4 linked regions of the Homo sapiens genome follow. The protein of the gene in region 3 interacts with the protein of the main gene of each other region in a pairwise test. Each region holds a gene or a part of one and is shown on either strand. Other genes may lie near its edges. The genes, in order: DIP2A, PLAGL2, GPATCH2L and ZNF398.

Evidence for each region.
Region 1: the proteins of GPATCH2L (region 3) and DIP2A interact in binary tests that used the Homo sapiens proteins (3 or more experiments, as listed by UniProt).
Region 2: the proteins of GPATCH2L (region 3) and PLAGL2 interact in binary tests that used the Homo sapiens proteins (3 or more experiments, as listed by UniProt).
Region 4: the proteins of GPATCH2L (region 3) and ZNF398 interact in binary tests that used the Homo sapiens proteins (3 or more experiments, as listed by UniProt).

The regions. Positions count from the first base shown.
Region 1 is NC_000021.9:46,566,706-46,570,564, reverse strand, and holds the end of DIP2A (disco-interacting protein 2 homolog A), read right to left. Parts: intron 3,196-3,859; coding exon 2,943-3,195; 3' UTR 550-2,942; downstream 1-549. UniProt on the Homo sapiens protein: Catalyzes the de novo synthesis of acetyl-CoA in vitro. Promotes acetylation of CTTN, possibly by providing the acetyl donor, ensuring correct dendritic spine morphology and synaptic transmission.
Region 2 is NC_000020.11:32,197,629-32,204,862, reverse strand, and holds part of PLAGL2 (zinc finger protein PLAGL2), read left to right. Parts: exon of another isoform or gene 1-1,383; intron 1,384-2,570; 5' UTR 2,571-2,684; coding exon 2,685-2,944; intron 2,945-7,180; coding exon 7,181-7,234. UniProt on the Homo sapiens protein: Shows weak transcriptional activatory activity.
Region 3 is NC_000014.9:76,210,865-76,215,020, reverse strand, and holds the end of GPATCH2L (G patch domain-containing protein 2-like), read right to left. Parts: 3' UTR 678-4,156; downstream 1-677.
Region 4 is NC_000007.14:149,178,219-149,183,542, reverse strand, and holds the end of ZNF398 (zinc finger protein 398), read right to left. Parts: intron 4,896-5,324; coding exon 3,742-4,895; 3' UTR 501-3,741; downstream 1-500. UniProt on the Homo sapiens protein: Functions as a transcriptional activator.

The sequences.
Region 1 (3,859 bases), on a different chromosome or scaffold from region 3:
AGATAGAACCAAAATACAAATAACCCACAAGAAAAAGTAAGAAGTATATGGAGGTTATAATTCTTAATAGAAAGAGACTCCTACATGTCAGTAAGAAAAAACTTGACCATAAGGACTGCCAAATCTGAACAAAATACATCAGATAAGAACTAAAAATGGCCATGAACACGAGGACATATTCAACATGACCAGACACAACACTTATTTGCCTATCAAATTGTTAAAGAGTTATTTTAATCTTGAGCACATGTCCATTGCCAACATTACTTGGCATCTGCAAAGAGGCCTTTTCCATGCTGTCATCCTGCCCTTCTGGAGGGCAGCAGGTACCCAAAGCTTCACACCTGGCATGAACTCTGACCCACTCACTCTACCTATAAGAACTGAGCCCAAGGCAGTAATTGTAATCATGGCAGTGTAAACGTGCATCTGGGCTCACTGCAGTCCTGTTGAAACAACGCTGATGTACGGCAATACAGCAAATACTACATTTACTCATGGCACACTTGTAAAATACAGCCACTGAAACATGTAGAAGAATATATGTAATAGATTTTAAAGTCTATAATTTATTAAGTACAAAAGCAAATTATTTAAAAAAGCACTTGATCCTAATTTTGTAAAAAATTTTTAAAAAGAAAAAATAAATCCCTGAGAGGGTTTATGTTACATACGAATGCTGCTGTTTACTCAGAGGTAGAATTATAAGAAATTTTAATTTTCTTTATACTTTAATGTGCTTTCTAGATTTTATGCTATAAGCATAACTGCTTTTATAGTCAGAAAAAAAGCAAAATAAGATACAACCTATTCGGGGTAATTTAAAGACCCTTTTCACACATTTCAAAATGCAGAATTACAAAGTCAATAACTTTTATTAACATAATGATATAAAAATTTTAGTGTGATATACAGAATTCCCAGAGTAATTCTAAAACATTTTAATGCACTTCTTAAAATCTTAATTTACAAGACACCTTGTCTTACCACCACTGACCTTTCAATACAAAAAGCTGACAATTTTTGTTTGCTATAAAACTACAACATTAAGATTGGAGTTAGGTAGTTTTTTTTTTTTTTTCTTTCCCTTCCCAGCCATTCTATTGTAAGGAATGTCCATTAGACTACTTCCCAAACCTCTGTATGTCAACAATAAGTTACATAGATTCTGTACATACTTACAACAGGATTATTAGAATTCCAGTATGTCACAACATACTTTACCACAGTCCAACACCATGGGGAAACAGGGCTACTATGCACAGTGCTATTTGTAGCCAGACAGGAGTAAAACATGAGAGCTGGCCCAGTTAGCCAGACTCATGTGTGGAGAATTAATAACAGCTTTGTTAGGCACTGATCCAGACTAATTCTGGAAAAACCTGGTTGTTTCTGTGAAGCATGCATGATTCACAAAATTTGCCACCCTCAATACCCCAAAAACCCAACAATTTCGTAACATACTCTTCATTAGCTATATAAAAATAATCTATGTCTTAGATTCGTGCTTGACTTCAAATTCTTAGAAGTAACTAAAGGACTTTACATTCTCTTCTTTGATTTAGGTTCTGTATAATTTTAGATCACTCAGCTTAGTCAAGTTTGAACAAAATAATAAAATGGTTTGGCCAAATTTTATAGGCACACAACTCAAAATGCAAAAAGCAGTGAAGAATGTAACCATCTCCACCTTCAATACGGGGCAATGCTGTTCCCTGCTCCCCTCAACTGTACTGCCGGTACTCACCAAACAGCACTATGGATATGAAAACCTTAGACTTTACCACAATGCTTCCAAATCTGCTGACTTGGAATAAAAATAATAAATCAGTACACTTCCACGAGAAGAATTAATATTGTAGTGTTAGGAAAACTAGCAATTTAACTAAACAGCATCAAGTTACAAACCAGGAAAGTGATTTAAAACTAAATGCTGGCTTATCTTTCTGAAACAAAGCATCTAAATTTGACAGTCCAAAATGGCACTTATTGAGTGTCCGTGACAATACATGCTGACAAGCAGCACACCTCTTTTTTGTTTTTTTAAGACGGCATCTCGTGCTGTCACCCAGGCTGGAGTGCAGTAGCGTGATCTCGGCTCACTGCAAGCTCCGCCTCCCTGGTTCATACCATTCTCCTGCCTCAGCCTCCCAAGTAGCTGGGACTACAGGCGCCCACCACCACACCCGGCTAATTTTTTGTATTTTTAGTAGAGACAGGGTTTCACCATGTTAGCCAGGATGGTCTCGGTCTCCTGACCTCGTGATCTGCTCGCCTCGGCCTCCCAAAGTGCTGGGATTACAGGTGTAAGCCACCGTGGCCAGCCAGCACACCTCTTTCAATAAAGGAACTGGCAGAGGAGGCACTGTGTGTGACCACAGTGCCCTCTGTGAGCAGGGAGGATGGGTCCAGCTTGCTTCCTTTTTCCATCAGCCTCCCTGTGAAACAGAAGTGAGGCAGCTGGTTTGTACTCTGCTATCTTCCCAGAATCAAGTTTCTCCCCGTAAATGGTCTCAAGTTTCTCCCGTAAATTCTATATATGAACTTGTCATTTGAAGTGGGAATAAATAACTGAATTTTAAAAATCAGGAACTATATTTTTAGCCTAAAGAAAGTGCAAACTTGCAGTACAGCAGAGAACAACCTCGGTGCCTGTGATTCCTCACAATGCCCATGCCAGGCCTTTCCTTTCCTTTCCTTGTCTCTCCATCTGTTAAAATACCAGCATCCGTGTTTTTGTAAATGTACTTGGCAGATTCAAAATATTTCTTTAAATAATTCAGGAAGTGCTTTCTAAAAGGAGATGCGGGGATTGTTGAGAGGGATCTGTAAGAGCACAGGAAGGGCGAGTCCCGGTGAGTGAGCTCTGCGGTGTCTTCCCACATCACACCTTGGACTGCTGGGGCTCATTCATCTCCGGCACCTGGGCCGGTGTGCTGCGCTCACATGTTGTAGGCGACATAGATGGGGTCCAGCTGGTCAGCCAGGAAGCCGTCCCGCAGGTGCATGCGCTGCTTCTCACCCCGAGAGTTGATAGGGATCACCCCTGGGTCCACGATGACCACCACTCCCACGACCAGGTAGTGCTCCTCCAGCACCACGTTGGTCACCAGGGCCACCAGGTCCAGGGCATCCTGCTCTAGCCCATCCAGCTCCACCACCACCACCAGCAGGTTGGTCCAGGTGAATACGGCACTGCAGAGAGAAGACAGACTGGGTCACATGGATACAGGCACAGGTCACAGGGGCCAATGAATGCTTGGGAAAGGGTGGCACAAAGAAGAGTGAAGCCCACCAATGTCACACAGCTATTTAAGGCCATTTACAATCTAAAGATCAGGCCAGATCCATTTTACAGGATGTCTATTCCAACTAAAGCTTTTACTGAGAATCAGAGCATTATCTGATGCTGAAAGCTGTACCTGTCCCAACACAAGTTCCCTACAGGTGAAGGAATCAGGAGTCACAACCATGTGAGAAACTCATATTAAAAGTAGAAACACTTCAGGATGAGACCTGTGGAAATCTACATTTTGCCTGTGCATTTGGGGACAATCTCTTAGCTTACCACTGATAAGGAAACAGATAAAAAAACAAGCCAAACCCAAACACAGGCAGTGAGGTGTGCTCTGGCACCATGTTTTGCAGAGTACATCCAGAGGGAGAACCCACAAGAAGTCCTCAGCCCTCTCTGGCAATGCCCAAGGTAGATAGGGCTCATCTACATGGCACCCAGCTCCACTGCAGACCAGGGTGACAATGCAGGAGGCCTGTGCCCAGGGCCCAGCAGTCCTTGCTCTGCTCCAACCGATGCACAGCACTCATGCCCAGAGGAAGGGCTGGAGGGACCACGTGAAGC
Region 2 (7,234 bases), on a different chromosome or scaffold from region 3:
TTCTCTATAGTCTATAGTTGTTAAGATTAAAATGTGAGACCAGAAGAGCAGCTTTGAAAGAGAAGTAGAATTCTTTCACAGTTTTGCTGAGGAAGGACAAGTCTGAAGGAACAGGCCTTCTGCTTATGTAAGACAAACCCAGGAATCTTTCTGGATCAGAGGAGTTTTCAGACAAAGGGCAGAGAGAGACTAGATCCCCAAAAGGGTTCCTAGGTAACACTAGCAGCTTTGGTTATCCAAGAGGCTGCTGGTGACTGTAGGTAGGGACTTCCTGTGCCTTTTGAAAAGTGTAGGAGAGTAGGATCAGGGTGTTGGCTCTTTTCTTTGTGAAGACATAGCCCCATTAAAAGCAGATCAAGGTGAGCACATGGCTGCTGCTTTCCTCCTTTGGTTCTATCAGTACAAGCTCCTTAGCCACCACCAGCCTCTTTCCTAGAAGCCCATTACTCACTCTTTCAGTAGCAGCCTACTAAACTATTGTGTCTTGTTTGTGCTTGTTCAGGAGAACAGATGAGGTGGACGTGTGGGAGGTGGGGACGTAATGTTCTCTTTCTGAGTTTGTGTGGAGTTTCCAGGGCTAGGCTCCTCTCTCACATCAGCCAAATTGATGTGACTTGTTTCCTTCTGGCTGCCATTCCCAACTTTCCAGAGGCTGAGGTGCATGATTTCAAATTGAAGGGGGAGTAGAATTTGACTTTGAAGGTAGGGGTAATTCCCTCCAATCTAAACATGCACACTCGAGCACACTCTCTGCTCAATTCCAAGGTGCATAGTAATTGCTGGTATTACAAACAGGTAATTCCACCCTTGCAAAGGAGGAGGGGACTTAAACAATGAAAGCCAGACGTCACAGGCCTTTGAGGTTTATAGTGAAGCAGGCACATATGCCATAATGACTTGAAGGCTCAAGTGGGACTAGTTTTTAGTGCTACCTACCCCTCCCCAGCATGTGATTCATGCAAAATGCAGCCACCTTAATGCAGATCTTTCTAGACAAATCTACACTCGTGATGGGGACGTGTTTATCATATTACATCGCAGTGTTTCTTCAACAAGAGGAATGGTTCCTGAACAGGACGTAGCTCATGTTAATGATGAGCAAAGCTCTCTGGGGCATGAACCCGCTGATCCCATCATCTTGTTCACGGCCAGTCTGTTGGATGAATGGTCACTGTAAGCAGCAGGTGCTAATGAGCTGAGCAAGCATTCTGTGGCCCACAGCTAGTTTGTGCAGTTGGAGCCCTCCCCAGATTCTCGTGGATAATCCCCAGACACCCCCTTTTCTCTCTTCACATGGAAAAGCCTCATGATCAAATTTTGGCACCATCTCTTCAAAGGGAATCCCCCTGTTGTAGCAGGTTGCATCGTGGTTGGTAATCTGTGGTAAGCTTGGGAGTATGAATGTGGGTCTCTTGTCCCCTTTTGAGAGTCAGTGTGGTAACTCCCATCCTCTTCCTCTGGATTAGTATCTGGAATGGAGTTGTGTCGTTCTTGCACATCTCCCCTTCTATTCAACAAGAGAAAGAATCAGACTTTAAGATTTCGGCTCCCCACTTGGGAATGGCTGCGAACCCAGTTTAAACCAGAACTACCTGGGCCTAGGTTGGTCCCTGAGAATCAACCTGCATTCAGTGACTAGTTTACCTATCTGAAATAAAGTTAGGGTTCCTTTTCTAGATATTAGGTATATAGAGATGAAAGAGAGATGATGCAAGCCCTCAGACAATCAGGCTGGTGGAGAGGAGTAAATTCCAATGCGAGCTCGCTACCGTCTTCTAAAGGAGATGTGCATATGTACTCTGAGGCCCTGTAGGAGGGGCCTCTCAGCACCTAGGGGTGTTGGACAGGCTTTGCTAAAGAGGGATGGTCTGGGCCCTGAGACACAGTGACCCAGAGAAGTGGTGGTGGTCAGGATGGGACCAGTTCTAGTCCTGGTTTAGGGAAAATGCTAAGAATCTGCTGTTGCCTTCCCATATAGACCCTCCTGATGTTGATGCACTGCTAAGAAACACATCTGGTACCAGGACTGACTAGGATGTAAATTTCCTAAGTAGAGGCTTCCCCTTCCTCCTCTCTTGCCTTTTGGGCATTTTATTGCTCCTTAGCACCTCCATGAGGAGGACAATTGTGGAAAGTAGTGGACGAGGAGGTGCCAGGGTAATAAGAAGGAGGAACCGCTATCTCTAGGTTCAATGGAAAGGATATAAAAGTGAGGTCCAGAAGAAAAAGTTTGAAGTTTTGGGGCTTTTGGTTCCTCAGTTTATCTTGTTTCTTATTAGCCTAGATGGTACTAGTAATAGTAGCTACCACTAAGCACTTAATGGATGCCCAGCCTTCTGCTGAATGCTTTATATTCATGATCTCATTTAATCCTCAAAACATTTTTATAATTTAGGAGATTATTATGCCCATTTTATAAATGAGGAAACAGCTCAGGGAAGTAAGTAATTGGCTGAAAGTCACACAGCTTCTAAGTGGAAGGGCTGGGATTGGAACGGGATCTGTCTGCTTCCAGAGCCCATGTTCTCATGGTATTGGGCTCCCTAACACCAGGTGTTCTGATGTTTCAGGTGAAGAGATTGTTTTCTGAAAGCTGCGTTGGAGGCTGTGACAGAGCTGAGAGCCTGTGTGGAGCGGATGGGGAGGCTTTCTCAATAACATGGCCCTTTGCCATTAGCCTTGCCATGACCACATTTTTCACCAGCGTCCCCCCCTGGATTCAAGATGCAAAGCAGGAGGAGGAAGTGGGCTGGAAACTAGTTCCCAGGCCTCGGGGCCGGGAGGCGGAGAGTCAAGTGAAGTGCCAATGTGAAATTTCGGGAACACCTTTCTCAAATGGGGAGAAGCTGAGGCCTCACAGCCTCCCGCAACCAGAGCAGAGACCATATAGCTGCCCTCAGCTGCACTGTGGCAAGGCTTTTGCTTCCAAATACAAGCTGTATAGGTAGGTGACACTCTCATATCTCTTCCTGCCCTGAGGTTCCCAGAGGGAAAAAGCAGAGAGACTCTGCCTAGTGTGGGTTTTTAATCTGTGGCAGAAGAGTGGAGGTTAATTTGTCCTACAAGTATACCCTGAATGCCAAACAGTTGAAGTCACTCACTAAAAAATGATTCAGATTGCTTGATTCAGACACTAGAATCTGATGGGTTGCCTCCCCAAAGTATTGGGATTGCTGGCGTGAGCCACTGCACCTGGCCTTCTTACACCTTCTTAGTGACGATCTGGGTGCCAATGTCAGGCAGCCTTGAGTTTTGTTTGTTTGTTTGTTTGTTTTTTTAAGAAATGGGAGTCTTGCTCTGTCATCCAGGCTAGAGTACAGTGGTGCAATCAGCTCACTGCAGCCTCCAATTCCTGGGCTCAAGTGATTCTCTTGACTCATTCTCCCAGGTAACTAGGATTACAGGCTTGAACCACCGCACCTGGTTGTTTTTAATTTTTTGTAGATATGGGGGTGTGGCTGTGTTCCCCAGGCTGGTTTCAAACTCCTGGGCTCAAGTGATCCTCCTGCCTTGGCTTCCCAAAGCAGTGAGATTACAGGCATGAGCCACCGCACTTAGCCCTGAACATTTTTTTTTAAATATTGCTTTCCTCACCTTTGTCAGGTGATGGTCAGAATTTTAGCTAGAAGTTAGGAATCAGTATTCGAACTTTAGAAGGAAAAGTAGACCTTCTGGCCCAGTCTGTAAATTTTAAAGTAGAGGTTCAGAGTAGGGACATAACTTACCCAAGGTCACACAGCTTCAGAGGTCCTGCAGTGCCTCTTCTACTGAATCAGCCTGCTACTTACTCATTTAACTATGTCTGTCTCCCTGTTGCCCACTGGGGCAGCTGCTTTTCTGAAACTTGTAAGCCCAAGAACCCCTACTTAAAGTGAAATTAAACGTAAAAGCCCTGACATAAGGCAGATAGAGAAGAGCAGCTTTGGTTGCTTTGGTGAGGATGGGGAGGCATGGTCAAAAGCAATTTTGGGCCAGGCGTGGTGGCTCGCACTTGTAATCCCAGCACTTTGGGAGGCTGAGGCGGGCGGATCACTTGAGGCCAGGAGTTTGAGGCAAGCCTGGCCAACATGGTGAAACCCCATCTCTACTAAAAATTTTTTAAAAATTAGCTGGGTGTGGTGGCACATGCCTGTAGTCCCAGCTACTTGGGACTCTGTGGCAGGAGAATCACTTGAACCCAGGAGAAGGAGGTTGCAGTGAACTGAGATTGTGCCACTGTACTCCAGCCTGGGTGACAGAGCAAGACTGTCTCAAAAAAAACAAAAAAGAGCAATTTTGATTTTATCCTTTTCGCATTAGAGGAACCATGAACTTGCCCTTTAGAAATGAGATAGATCAGCCGGGTGCGGTGGCTCACGCCTGTAATCCCAGCACTTTGGGAGGCCAAGGCAGGCGGATCACGAGGTCAGGAGATCGAGACCACGGTGAAACCCCGTCTCTACTAAAAATACAAAAAAAATTAGCTGGGCGCGGTGGCAGGCGCCTGTAGTCCCAGCTACCGGGAGGCTGAGGCAGGAGAATGGTGTGAACCCAGGAGGCAGAGCTTGCAGTGAGCCGAGATCACACCACTGCACTCCAGCCTGGGCGACAGAGCGAGACTCCGTCTCAAAAAAAAAGAAATGAGATAGATTGGCCTGATGCACAGTCATCCAACCATCCATTCATCTATCCAACATTATTGAGCTCTTGCTCTGTACCAGGCACAGTGCTCGGTGCAAGGGGCGGAGTAGTGAGCCAGACAGATGGGGGTGCTGGTCCTCCTTGGGTTTATGGTCTTAATAGTGGGTACAGACAGTAAACAAGTAAATACATGAACAAGATGACCACAAAGCCTCAGTTCCTCATCTGGAAAACAGTTAATAGGAAGGGACTAAAATAGGCAACAGGGTAGCATGGTAGTCAGGATTGCCCTCTTGACAATTCTGTGGTCCTCAGGAGTGCTTAGATTCTCTGTGTGCTCCTATAAGTTAAGGGAACTCCAGTCAAGGCCATACTCTTAGGCTTTCTTTTTTTTCTTTTTTTTTTGAGACAGGGTCTCACTTTTGCCCAAGCTGGAGTATAGTGGCGTGATTATAACTAACTGCAGCCTCAAACTCCTGGGCTCAAGTGATCCTCCTGCCTCAGCCTCCTGAGTAGCTAGGATCACAGGCATGTACCACCACCACACCCGCTAATTTTTGCATGTTTCCTAGAGACAGGATCTCTTCCCTGTGTTGTGCAGGGTGATCTCAAATTCCTGGCCTCAAGCAGTCCCTCCACCTTAGCCTCCCAAAGTATTGGGATTACTGGCATGAGCCACTGCACCCGGCCTTCTTAGACTTTCTTAATGATGATCTGGTTGCCAGTGGGCGGCTGCAGGAAAGGTCCTGGGTCAGGAGGCAGGAGCCCTGACTCATCACATATAATTTACTGTGTGATCTTAGGTGAGTTGCTAGACCTCTTTGGGCCTCAGTTTCCTCACCTGCAAAATGAGGGAAATGAAAAGTGGATCACTCAGCACCTCCCTCTCTACATTACCACGTCAGTTCCATCACAGGAGGTTGACAGTAACCCACATAGGCACGAGCACTCTTGAGCATGCATATGTGGGATGTGGGCAGGGGGTGTGTTTGATACCCTCCAGGTAGAAAGGATCACAGAGTGCTGTACGAGAGAGAGACAGCTGTTGCATACCTGACTGAACATAGGTCTTCCGAAGGCCTGTTTAAATTCAGCCTCTGCTAGGGTGAGGGGGCTGCCTTTTTTTTAGACTCCTTTCCTTGTCTGGAGATCAAGGTTAATGACACAGCTTATGCAGAGCCTGGCAAACAGTGGGTGCTGAGTTGATTCTGAATATGCTCTGGAGCTGTGAATTGCAGTTCCTGGATTCTGAGCCACTTTTCAACCATATAGGATCAGGTAAACCAAGGGACACTGAAGTGCCATACCATTAAAACATTTCTTAAAGTGTTACTGGTTTATATGACAAGCAATTCAAGTGGTACATACTGGCATGCAGTGAAGAATGAATGATCCTCACACTCGAAGTCACTATTCCTCTCCCCAAAGGCAGCTGGTGGGTTGGTTTTTGTGTATCCTTCCTAAGACATTCAAACATGTATATTCTCTTTCTTTTTTATTTTCAAAACAGATTGTATCACATGTACTGTATTGAACTTCCTTTTTTGACTTAGCCCTGTATATCTTGGAAATTTGTTCTAGATAAGGAAGTTTATTTATTTATTTAGAGACGGAGTCTTGCTCTGTCACCCAGGATGGAGTGCAGTGGTGCGATCACAGCTCACTGCAACTTCAAATTCCTGGGCTCAAGTAATCCTGCCTTAGCCTCTTGAGTAGCTAGGACTACAGGTGCATGCTGCCATGCCCATCTAATGGTTAAGATTTTGTAGAGACAAGGTCTCGCTATGTTGTTCAGGTTGGTCTGAAACTCCTGGGCTCAAATGATCCTCCTGCCTCACCCTCCCATAGTGCTGTGATTACAGGCATGCACCACTGTGCCCAGACTGCACGTTTAGGTATATTTTATTTTCTCTTTATTGTATCATTTAAAATTATTTAAATGTAATGTTTAAAAAATGAAATACTTTCACGTAATTCAAAATTCAAAAAGTACCAAAACTTATACGATGAAAATTCTCCATGACACCCATCTATAAGCTGTTCGGTTCTTTTTCGCATAGGCAGCCACTGGTATCAGTTTCTTGTATGTCCTTCCAGAAATATTTTAGCCATATACAAGCAAACATACATATATTTTTCCCCTTTTCACATAGAGTCCTAGTCTACATCCACTATTCTGCCTCCTTGCTTTTTTTCTACTTCCTGTCTCTTAGGAGCATGTTCCCTGTAAGTACACAAAAAGCCTCATTTTTGAAAAGTTGAGTCATTTTATGGACTTATCATAATTTATGTAACCAGTTCCCTATTGATAGATTGGACGTTCAGATTGTTTCTGATTTTTTTTGCTACTACAAGCAATGCTGCAAAGAATGTCGGTACACATTATTTTGCAGATAGGCAAGGATATCTGTAGAATATAACTGGTTTGGTATTGCATTGCAAGCCTTTACCATGGTTTTTATATCTAGTTTCCTGTTAATGGACACCTTTGGTTGTCCAGTCATCCCTTGTGATCTCCCCTCTTTCTGCTTTCTCCCCTATCCCCTGTCTCTACCCCCAGGCACATGGCCACCCACTCAGCCCAGAAACCCCACCAGTGTATGTACTGTGATAA
Region 3 (4,156 bases):
CTTCAAAAGTAAAAGAATTCTGTACGGATGCTCAGTACCTGGGTAACAGGTCATTCATACCCCAAACCTCAGCATCACGCAATATACCCAGGTAACAAACCTGCACATGCACCCCTCAAATCTAAAATAAAAGTTGAAAAAGAGAAAAAAAAACCTTTCCCATGCATTTCATGGTTTTAGGGCTTAGATTATACTAAGCTAAGAAGATAAAACTGACTGACCTTTGGCTGCAAAACAAAAAGAGTTTGTTACTGACTGCTATGGTATAAATGTTTGTGTCCCCCGAAAACAGGTGGAAATCCTAACCCCCAAAGTGTTGGCATTGAAGACAGGGCCTTTGGGAGGTCACTAGATTAGGAGGGTGGAGCCCTAGTGATTGGGATTTATGCCCTTATAAAAGAGACCCCAGAGAGCTAACTAGTTCCCTTCACCATGTGAGGACACAATTAGAAGGTGCCATCTATGAACCTGAAGGCAAGCTCTCACCAGACATTGAATCAGCCAGCACCCTGATCTTGGACTTCCCAGACTGTGAAACCATAAGAAATAAATTTCTGTTGTTTATTTTTTTAAAAAAATTAGGTAAGGTAGCAAGATATATTAGCATACAAAATCAGTAGCTTTTATATAGAGAGCAATAACCAGTTAGAAGACATAATGGCAGAGGAAATCTCATTTACTAGCAAATAAATTAAATACTTAGGGATAAGCTTAGCAAGAAATGCACAAAACCTACACAAGGATAATTTTAAAACACTGCTAAAAGGCACAAAATAGACTTGAATAAATGGAAATACATCTCCTATTCTTGGATAGGATGACACCACATTTTAAAGATGTTAGTTCTCTCTAAATCAGTTAATATCATATAATATCAATAAAATACCAATGTACCTTAAAAAATGAATTTAGACAAGTTGATACTAAAGTTCACATGGAAAAACAAACATGTATGAATAGCCAGAAGCACAATAGGAAAAATTATAAGGGGGACTAGCCTTGCCAGTTGTTAAAACATACTATAAAGTCTCTATAATTAAAACAGTGTGGTACCATGCACAAGTAGACCAGTGGAACAGAAAACCCAGAAAGACCCAAGTACATATGGATCCTGGATTGAATACCGAACCAGAAAAACAACATTACTGGGAAAACAGCTACAATTCAAATAAAGTATGTAGTTAATAGGATTGTGCCAATGTTAATTTCCTAGTTTCAATAATTGTACCATTGGTATGTAAGTTAACATTAGAAGAAGCTGAGAGAAGGGCACACAGGAAATCTATTTTTGCAGATTTTCTGTTAAGTCTAAAATTATTTTTTTTAAAAAAGGTTTTGGATCAAGAGCCCCTGAGAATGTGAAGAGGGGGCTCTGTGTCAGGCTAACATGGAACACCAGAGGGAATAAATCGCCACTGCTCACATTCCCTGAGCTGGCCTCACTTTATCTCTGGCTGGTGAGCTTTTGCTTGGATTCTATAAAATACACGTCTTTACAATAAATTCCATTCCATGCTTTAAAATGTAAAATAAAAAATTGGTGTTACAAAAAGTTTCTGTTAATTCTCCAAATGCATTTCTTTGTTTTCATTGGGTCTTTAAAAGTATTTAGTCTGTCATGCTAATTGAAATACTTACTTCATTTCTTCTATGACAATTGTTATATTAGATTTCTTTTGATGTCATTTTTTGGCAAACTATACCTTCCTGGAAAATTATCCATTTAATCCAAGTTTTTAAATTGTTTGCATACAGTTGAGCAAAGAATATTTTATGACTCTTACCTATTCAATACTTGGTAATTCTTATTTTGTGTTTGTCTTCTCTTGTAATGTTAGCTAAAATGTTACATATTTTACTACATATTTTAAAAATTAGCTTTGTTTCCTCATTTTTCTAATTAATTTTTCTTGATTCTTTTAGCCTGCCTTTAAAAGATTCCTTTTCCTAATATTTTGAGTTATATGACATTTATCTTATTTTTTAATACATAAATTTTAGGGCAATGAATTTTCCTCTGAGCACTGTTTTATTTGTATCTCAGAGGAACAAGTTTATATTTTAGATATGAAATGTTTTTTTAATACTTTGCATTTCCTAATCAACCCAAGAATAGTTGAAGAGCTTAAAAACATTTTGGATTGCAGATGAGCAGTGTTTTCTGGCTTTAATTTATTGCATTTTTTTTTCTGACCACCTATCCTCAAATTCTAAGTTTATTGCATTTTTATCAGCAAATGCCATCTGTTGTTCCTTTTTTCCGTTCTGAAACTTATGTTTTCTGTACGCTCTAATACACAGTCAAATGGGGAAATGTTTCATGGATACTTTGAAGTGTAGTTACCACTTTTAGGGTAAAGTCTAATATGCATCAACTAGATCTTCTGTATCTTATTTAAATCATCCCATGTCCTAGTTTTTTATCCACTTGATCTGTCATGAATTGACAGAATTGAATTAAAATATCCAACTAACATTGTATTTGTTTCTTCCTGTGTCTCCTATGGTTTCCAATACATAAATGGTTTTCCATTATTTGGTACACAGATATCTAGAAACATTATCTCGTGAGTCACACCCTTTAGCATTATGTCGTGGTTTTTTTTGGTTTTTTTTTTTCCGGTTCCTTTTCCCTAAGTTCAACCTTGCCTGATATGCAGACTACAACTCATTTTCTTGTTTGTGTTTGCTTGGTTTACTTTTGCTCAACCTTTCTGAATCTTATAACATGAAATTAGTGTTTGCTGACATTTTTGCCTTTTATCTACAGATAAGTTTACTTTTATTAATATGACAGGTACATTTGTTCCTATTCTATGGTTTTAGACATCTTTCATTTTTGTGATTTGTTTGGTTGTGCATACATGTTTTTTCTCATAATTAGCAGTCTGAATTTTTCTTCTAGTGATAATCTCTTTAATCATATTTTCATATGATCCCCATAATCCTCTATTTCACTAGTCAATATACCTTAATTCTCTACTATGAGCAATGAAAAATTAGTAATTTACCTGTCCTCCCTATACTATTTTAATAATGGAACATAAGTCACTTTCTTATTTCTATGTACAAAAGCTAGACTGCATCGCCTAATTTAAAATGCTGGTCAGTCAGAAGCTGTTCAGGAAAAATGTTGGCCCAAAACTCATAATTATTTCACTTTTATGCAGTTTCAAAAGATTTAGCTAACTTTATTTATAGCACGGTATTAATGAGACCAAAATCATGGGATCAGAACTTAGTGTGAGCCAGCAGATTGGTTTTATCCCATGGGCACTTCCTGTAGGCTTAAAATATCAATGATTGCTAAGGTGTTCAGTCCAAAAGGTGTAAATAGATCAACACAAATTTATTGTCACTACTGAGAAACAAAGCCCAAAAAACTTAACTGGTAGTTGAACAACTTTGACACTGAAGAACAGTACAAGGAACTAAGACCATCACATTGTGCATTAAACTCTACTAAGTCGGTGGTTCAAGGGGAATAACCTCAGACTGGTATCATGCTAGAACATGTAATGGAATCAGTCAGCCATGATTCCAAATACACCATTACTTCCAATTCAGTTTAACCTAGTTTTAACATGTCAGTAGCTCCTACCAATAAGTGGGCCTAGCTATATTTCCCACGGAAGGTGATCAAGGCAATGCAAATCTGTTCACATCTCAGTTCCAGCTTTGTATGCACAATGGGCCAGTTGCAGTAGGGTTTCCACGAATGCACCCTGAGCTTAGCAGAGGAATACGGCAATAGTTCTCCAACTCAACAAGTAAGCCAGTATACACAGGACCCTTCACTTCCTGGCTCTTGCCTTTCTCTCTTTGTTCCTCTGTAAGCTTTACATGTGGGCCATACTAAAACACTTGCAGTGCTCTGAATAAACCATGCTTTTACCCTTGGAGGGCTTCATCCACTCTTCTTAACTCCTGCTTATCCTTCAGGATTTCTTTCAATGTTTTTTTTTACTTCTTCCACTGCCCAGTTTGAGTTAAAGTGCCCTCCTCCTTGCTGCCAAAATACCCTGTCATTCTTATTTCATTCTACATTGTAATACTTTTTTTCTGGTCTCTTCCGCAGAAGACCATGAACATCATGAGAGCAGGAATGCCTTTCTTCTCTGTATACCCAGCTCCTAGCAGAGTGCTTGGCATAAGA
Region 4 (5,324 bases), on a different chromosome or scaffold from region 3:
TGGGAGGCCGAGGAGGGTGGATCACAAACTCAGGAGATCGGGACCATCCTGGCTAACACGGTGAAACCCCATCTCTACTAAAAATACAAAAAATTAGCCGGGCGTGGTGGCGGGCGCCTGTAGTCCCAGCTACTCAGGAGGCTGAGGCAGAATGGCGTGAACCCAGGAGGCGGAGTGCAGTGAGCCGAGACCGTGCCACTGCACTCCAGCCTGGGCAACAGAGCAAGACTCCGTCTCAAAAAAAAAAAAAAAAATCAGGCACAAAGAAAGAAAAAAAAAAACATATTTGGTGACATCAGAGGTCCTTGTCCGTAAGAAAATATTTTTGAGAAAGAAAGATGCTTTTGTTCATGGCTACTGAGCTGCCCTCAGGCAGTCACTGAGGATGCTTTTTGTAGTTTAAGAAGCTAAGACATGAGAGGAAGGGCAGGAGTCCTGCCCCTCCTCAGAGAAAATCTGAGCAGAAATTAGGGATTCCCATTCCATTTGGAATGAGGTCCTTTTTTTTTTTTTTTTTTAATATCAACGAGGCTTGTGTGGACTGTTATTACCGAGTAAGTCACAGGGTCTGGTCCTGGTTGAGATAGACATGAACATCACTTCTCAGATATGCTCAAGAGAAGCCCAGCAGAGCCCCACACCTTCCCCGCTAATAGGAAACTTGCACACATTATTAATGAAAAGGGAAGTAGGAGTTTCCAATACTAAATGTTCAGCAGAAAAGGAGCAGGGCCATCTTCTTGCACTTTCTAGACAATCAACCAACTTCCATTTATTTTCACAACTGTGGCTAAACCAGAGGTTCATCCAATGGTGACAATGGAAAACCTAGTAAGCAAAGAGTAAATCTGGTTATAGTCAACACCTGGATCCACTCTAAGGGAATGGTGCTTATGTGTGATAGTGACAGCTTCTTGGTCCAAAAGGCTGACAGATGAAGAGCACGTTTCTGGGGTTTCCCCTTTCCTATCTTGTCTGGTCATGACAAGCAGTTCTCATGTATTTCTTTAACTGAAGTGTTAAATTGCATGGTTTCTCTCAGGAGCACTTGATAGGCCAAGAGTTTCTCCTCCACACTTTCTGTTGGACACCTTATCCTTCCCACTGATCCATTTTACTTACCCACTTTTGAATCTTAAGCAAACACTCTTTGGAACTGGCCTGCAGTTCTAACTGATAGGGGATTGATGAAAGAAAAGAGTAACAGTTGAACTCTCTTTTATTCTTGGGCTGAGGCTTAGTATCGCACCTGCTTCCGTCTCTCTGGGATGGCCTTGCACATCGCCTTTCGTTCCATCTGAGGGCTCTTCCTTCATTCGTATTTGAATTGTGTTCACTTTTTGCCAAAGTTTAGGTCCCTGCTGGCTACACAGTTCCTTTCAGAAGGGACTGCGGGATCTATCTGCAGCCATTTCAATCCACAGGTCTCTTTCACTAATAAGCTGTGTTCTTGGCAAATCTTTGAGTAAAAAAGTATTTAAAGTGTTACCTAGTCCCACATCTCACCTACTTTAGGAGTCCCTCCTCCAGCATACCCTGGCAAATGCTTGAAATCCACTCAGAAAAGGGAACTCAGCACCTAGACAATACTTTGGCTCTTCTCCCTTTTCACTGGGGAAATCAAGGTGCAAACTAGAGCTGAATCTCACATTCAAGTTCCTAGTGGGTTGCCAATGAAGCCAGAACCTTGGCTTTGGGATTCCCAGCACCCCTAAATTTTCCCATGGTATAGGTCCAGATTCTGGCTAGAAAGCTCTTAATCCCAATATGCTAGGGTATTGCCCATCATGTCTTGTTCTGTATTATTGGGCTTTTTCACTGTAAGTTATGACAGCAGACACACATTTCTTGTGTCTCCCATGGTCCCTGGTATTGTGAATGTCATGGAGCAGATGTTTTCTAAGTGTGATTATCCTACAGAGCAACATGTTCAGACATAGCCTTCCCAGAAGCAAAGTTAGCTGGGCTAACACCTTCTTCTAGTGTTGTTATGCATAACTAGAGAGAGTGAAGGATGGGCTAGGTGATGAGCAAAAAAATGGGTCCTTTCCTTATCACTTCATCAAGAAAATATCCTGTCTAAACATTTCCAGACCTTGTTCTAGACCTCAGGAAGAAGCAGAGGAAACAAGAGTATAGGAATAAACCAGTTTCCTGCCCAAGATGTAAGACTTCTGCATTCTGTCTTCTACCTCAGGATTCCAAGTGGGAGTAAAACAACAAATCAAATAAATTTTAGTCAAGTTTCAACAAGAATTTATCTGCTTTGACTTTGCTGTCTTATTTAGCTTTGCCTGGACAGAAGCCAAAGACAGAGACAGAACTTTGGCAGGAAAAGGAATGTATCACAGACTTTTTTTGAATAATTCCTAGAGGCTCACTTTTTTTCCTTTCAACAGCCTCATTGTGCAGATGAAAATTTGAGATCCATAAAGGAAACAGAACTTAGGCCCAGTTGCAAAGCCACTTAGGAGCAGACTCAGATGCTCCCAGGTGATTAAATCACCCCAAGAAAAGAACATGTGGTAGTCAAAGTCCCTAAAAGCAACACAGGCAAGAACAAACTGTTGTCTATGCATGGTGCTTAGCTCTCAGTGATCTAGGAATTTCCTCAATCTGTCCACTGCCAATGGGATACAGCCAGATAGGGTGAACATACACTCTCTCTGATGGCTCAAGGAAGCTGCATTATAACACTGTTATCATCTCACTACTGAGGACCAAGAGTTCACTGGCACTTTCTGAAGCTCCATGCTTCTGGAAAGTGCTGTGATCTTTGTTGCTGATGATTGTCAAGAATATCAGACACCAGGAATGGAGAAGCCAACTTACTGGCTTGGAAAAGATAAGAATTTGATGTGAACGACTCTCAGAACATGGTGTAGGCACAAATTTTAAGCTGTTCTGTCATTGTTAAGCCAGCTATTTCTCTGAGATCTCTAGCTTTTAAAGCTGGGGCTAAGAAAACCGTTTCCAATTTTTTTAACCAGGACCTTGGCAAAGATTTCTGGCAGTTTAAATGGCAATAAGAGCCTGTTTCAAATCAAGCCAGTATAGTTAAGGAATATTCTCCTTAATAATCTTTTAAAGTCAGATTTCTTGTTCAACCAATATTAAACAAAATTTATGTGAATAATTAATCTAAGAAACCTAGGCAGGCAGTCTTGAGTTACCATGTTTCAGGGAAAGACAGCCACAGAGGTGTGTGAACAGATCTTGGCTGGTTTTGAGAGAGGAGGCAGCAACATAAACAGTGGCTTAAGCACTTTCTCCAACAACCATCTTAGCTATCAAAGAACTAATAAAAGGCTTTATAGTTAAACATTCTCATGCCTTATGATGGGCTTCCAGTTTTGGAGGCTCTTCTCATGTATCTGTCTCTACCTAGAGACATAATCTACTATCAACCTGCTGTTCTCTGAGAACAAGAGAACTAGAGGTTAAATCCTGCTTTCCAACCTCTCCGCAATATTCTTGTAACTTCTGCTTTTGTTGTATCTTTGAAAAGATGGACATGCTGGGCTCCTTTCCAGGTCTTTCTGGGTTTCAAAATGTGGTATTCTTGTAAGGGTGTGAAATTCCAAAACACAAGCATGTCTCTAGTCAAGTGTATAGGACCCCAAATTCATTGATGTGCCAGATAATAATTACTGTGGGTGTTGGATGGGGCTCACAGACCTTCTCTTGGATTTTGTGCCCTGCTGTGAGCATATACAAGCATGAAGCCACAGAGATTTGGATTTACAAAACTCCCCCTCCACTCCCTTCCCCATACCACTGGTTGGTCTCTAGACCTTCAGTGTTGACACCCAGGCCAGAAGTTTCAAGCCCAGTTATGAGGGGACCTGGTGGGTTGGGTGGCTGACCTGATGGGTCACTATCACCCCCACAGCCTCCATTGTGGCCTGAACGGAGGTGGTCCTTGAGTGTCTGTTTGTAGCGGAAGCTCCTGCCACAGTAGGAGCAGGGGTAGGGCCGCTCCCCGGTGTGGATGCGCTGGTGTTTCATTAGGTGGTGCTTGCGGATGAAGCTCTTGCCACAGTGAGGACAACTGAAGGGCCGCTCGCCTGTGTGCAGCCGCCGGTGGTTCAGCAGGTGCTCCTTGCGCATGAAGCTCTTACTGCAGTCAGTGCAGGGGTAAGGACGCTCGCCTGTGTGGATCATCTGGTGGCGGATCAGGGCCGAGTGGCCGTTGAAGTCAATGCCACACTGAGGGCAGGAGAAAGGGCGCTCTTGTGCATGACCCCGCTGGTGGAGCAGGAGGCTGATTTTCAAGCTGAAGCTCCTGCCGCACTGGGCACAGCGGAAGGGCCTTTCGCTTGCATGAGCTCTCCGGTGGCTGGTGAGTCGAGCCTGGTCAGCAAAGCGCTTGGGGCAATCAGGACAGGGGAAAGGACGCTCAGTGCTGTTATGGACCCGAAGATGGTAGGTAAGTCTTGATGGGTGAGTAAAAGTCCTGGCACAGTGTGGGCAGGTGGGGGGTGTCTCGCTGGCATGGTCCTGGGAGGTGCTGCTGAGGTCCGCCTGTGGAGTAAAGTGCTTAGGGCACTGGGCACAGGGTAAGGGGTGCTCAGTAGCATGGCTACATTGGTGGGTCAGCAACATGTCTTGGCTGAGATTCTTGCCACAGTGGTGGCATGAGAACACCTGCTCGCCAACTGGAGGTGGGAGGGGATAGCTACCCAACTGAGTAAAAGTCACTTGTCCCTCAGAGGCTTCAGGCAGGTCAGTGGCTGGACGTCCAAAAGGTGTCATGGATGTAGACTGCTGGCTTTTGAAAGCCACATCTGAAAAAGCATCCTTTGCTGCTGCTGGTGGAGAAGAGAAAGGGACTGGAACCTCAGGGCACAACGAGGATCTAGCAAGGCCTTCAGCTTTGATGACAAGCTCTTCATCTGAAAGAAAAGACTCCAGAGTTATACCCATCAATAACTGTCTCACTAGCAACTCTCATGCATTCCTACCCAGCTCTAACAGATCACTCGAAGCTCAGATCAGAAATACAGCAGAAGGCTGCAATAATAACCGAGACATCTGTGGTCTCTGTGGCAAATCATCAGAGAAATGAAATGACACTTTAAATTTATTTTATGACAGGATCACATTCTGTTGCCCACGATGGAGTACAGTGGCGTGACCTCAGCTCACTGCAGCCTCCACTACCTGGGTTCAAGTGATTCTCCTGCCTTAGCCTCCTGAGTAGCTGGGATTACAGGCATGCACTACCGTGCTCAGGTAATTTTTTTTTTTTGAGACGGAGTCTCGCTCTGTCGCCCAGGCTGGAGTGCAGTGGCACAAACTCGGCTCAATGCAAGCTCCGCCTC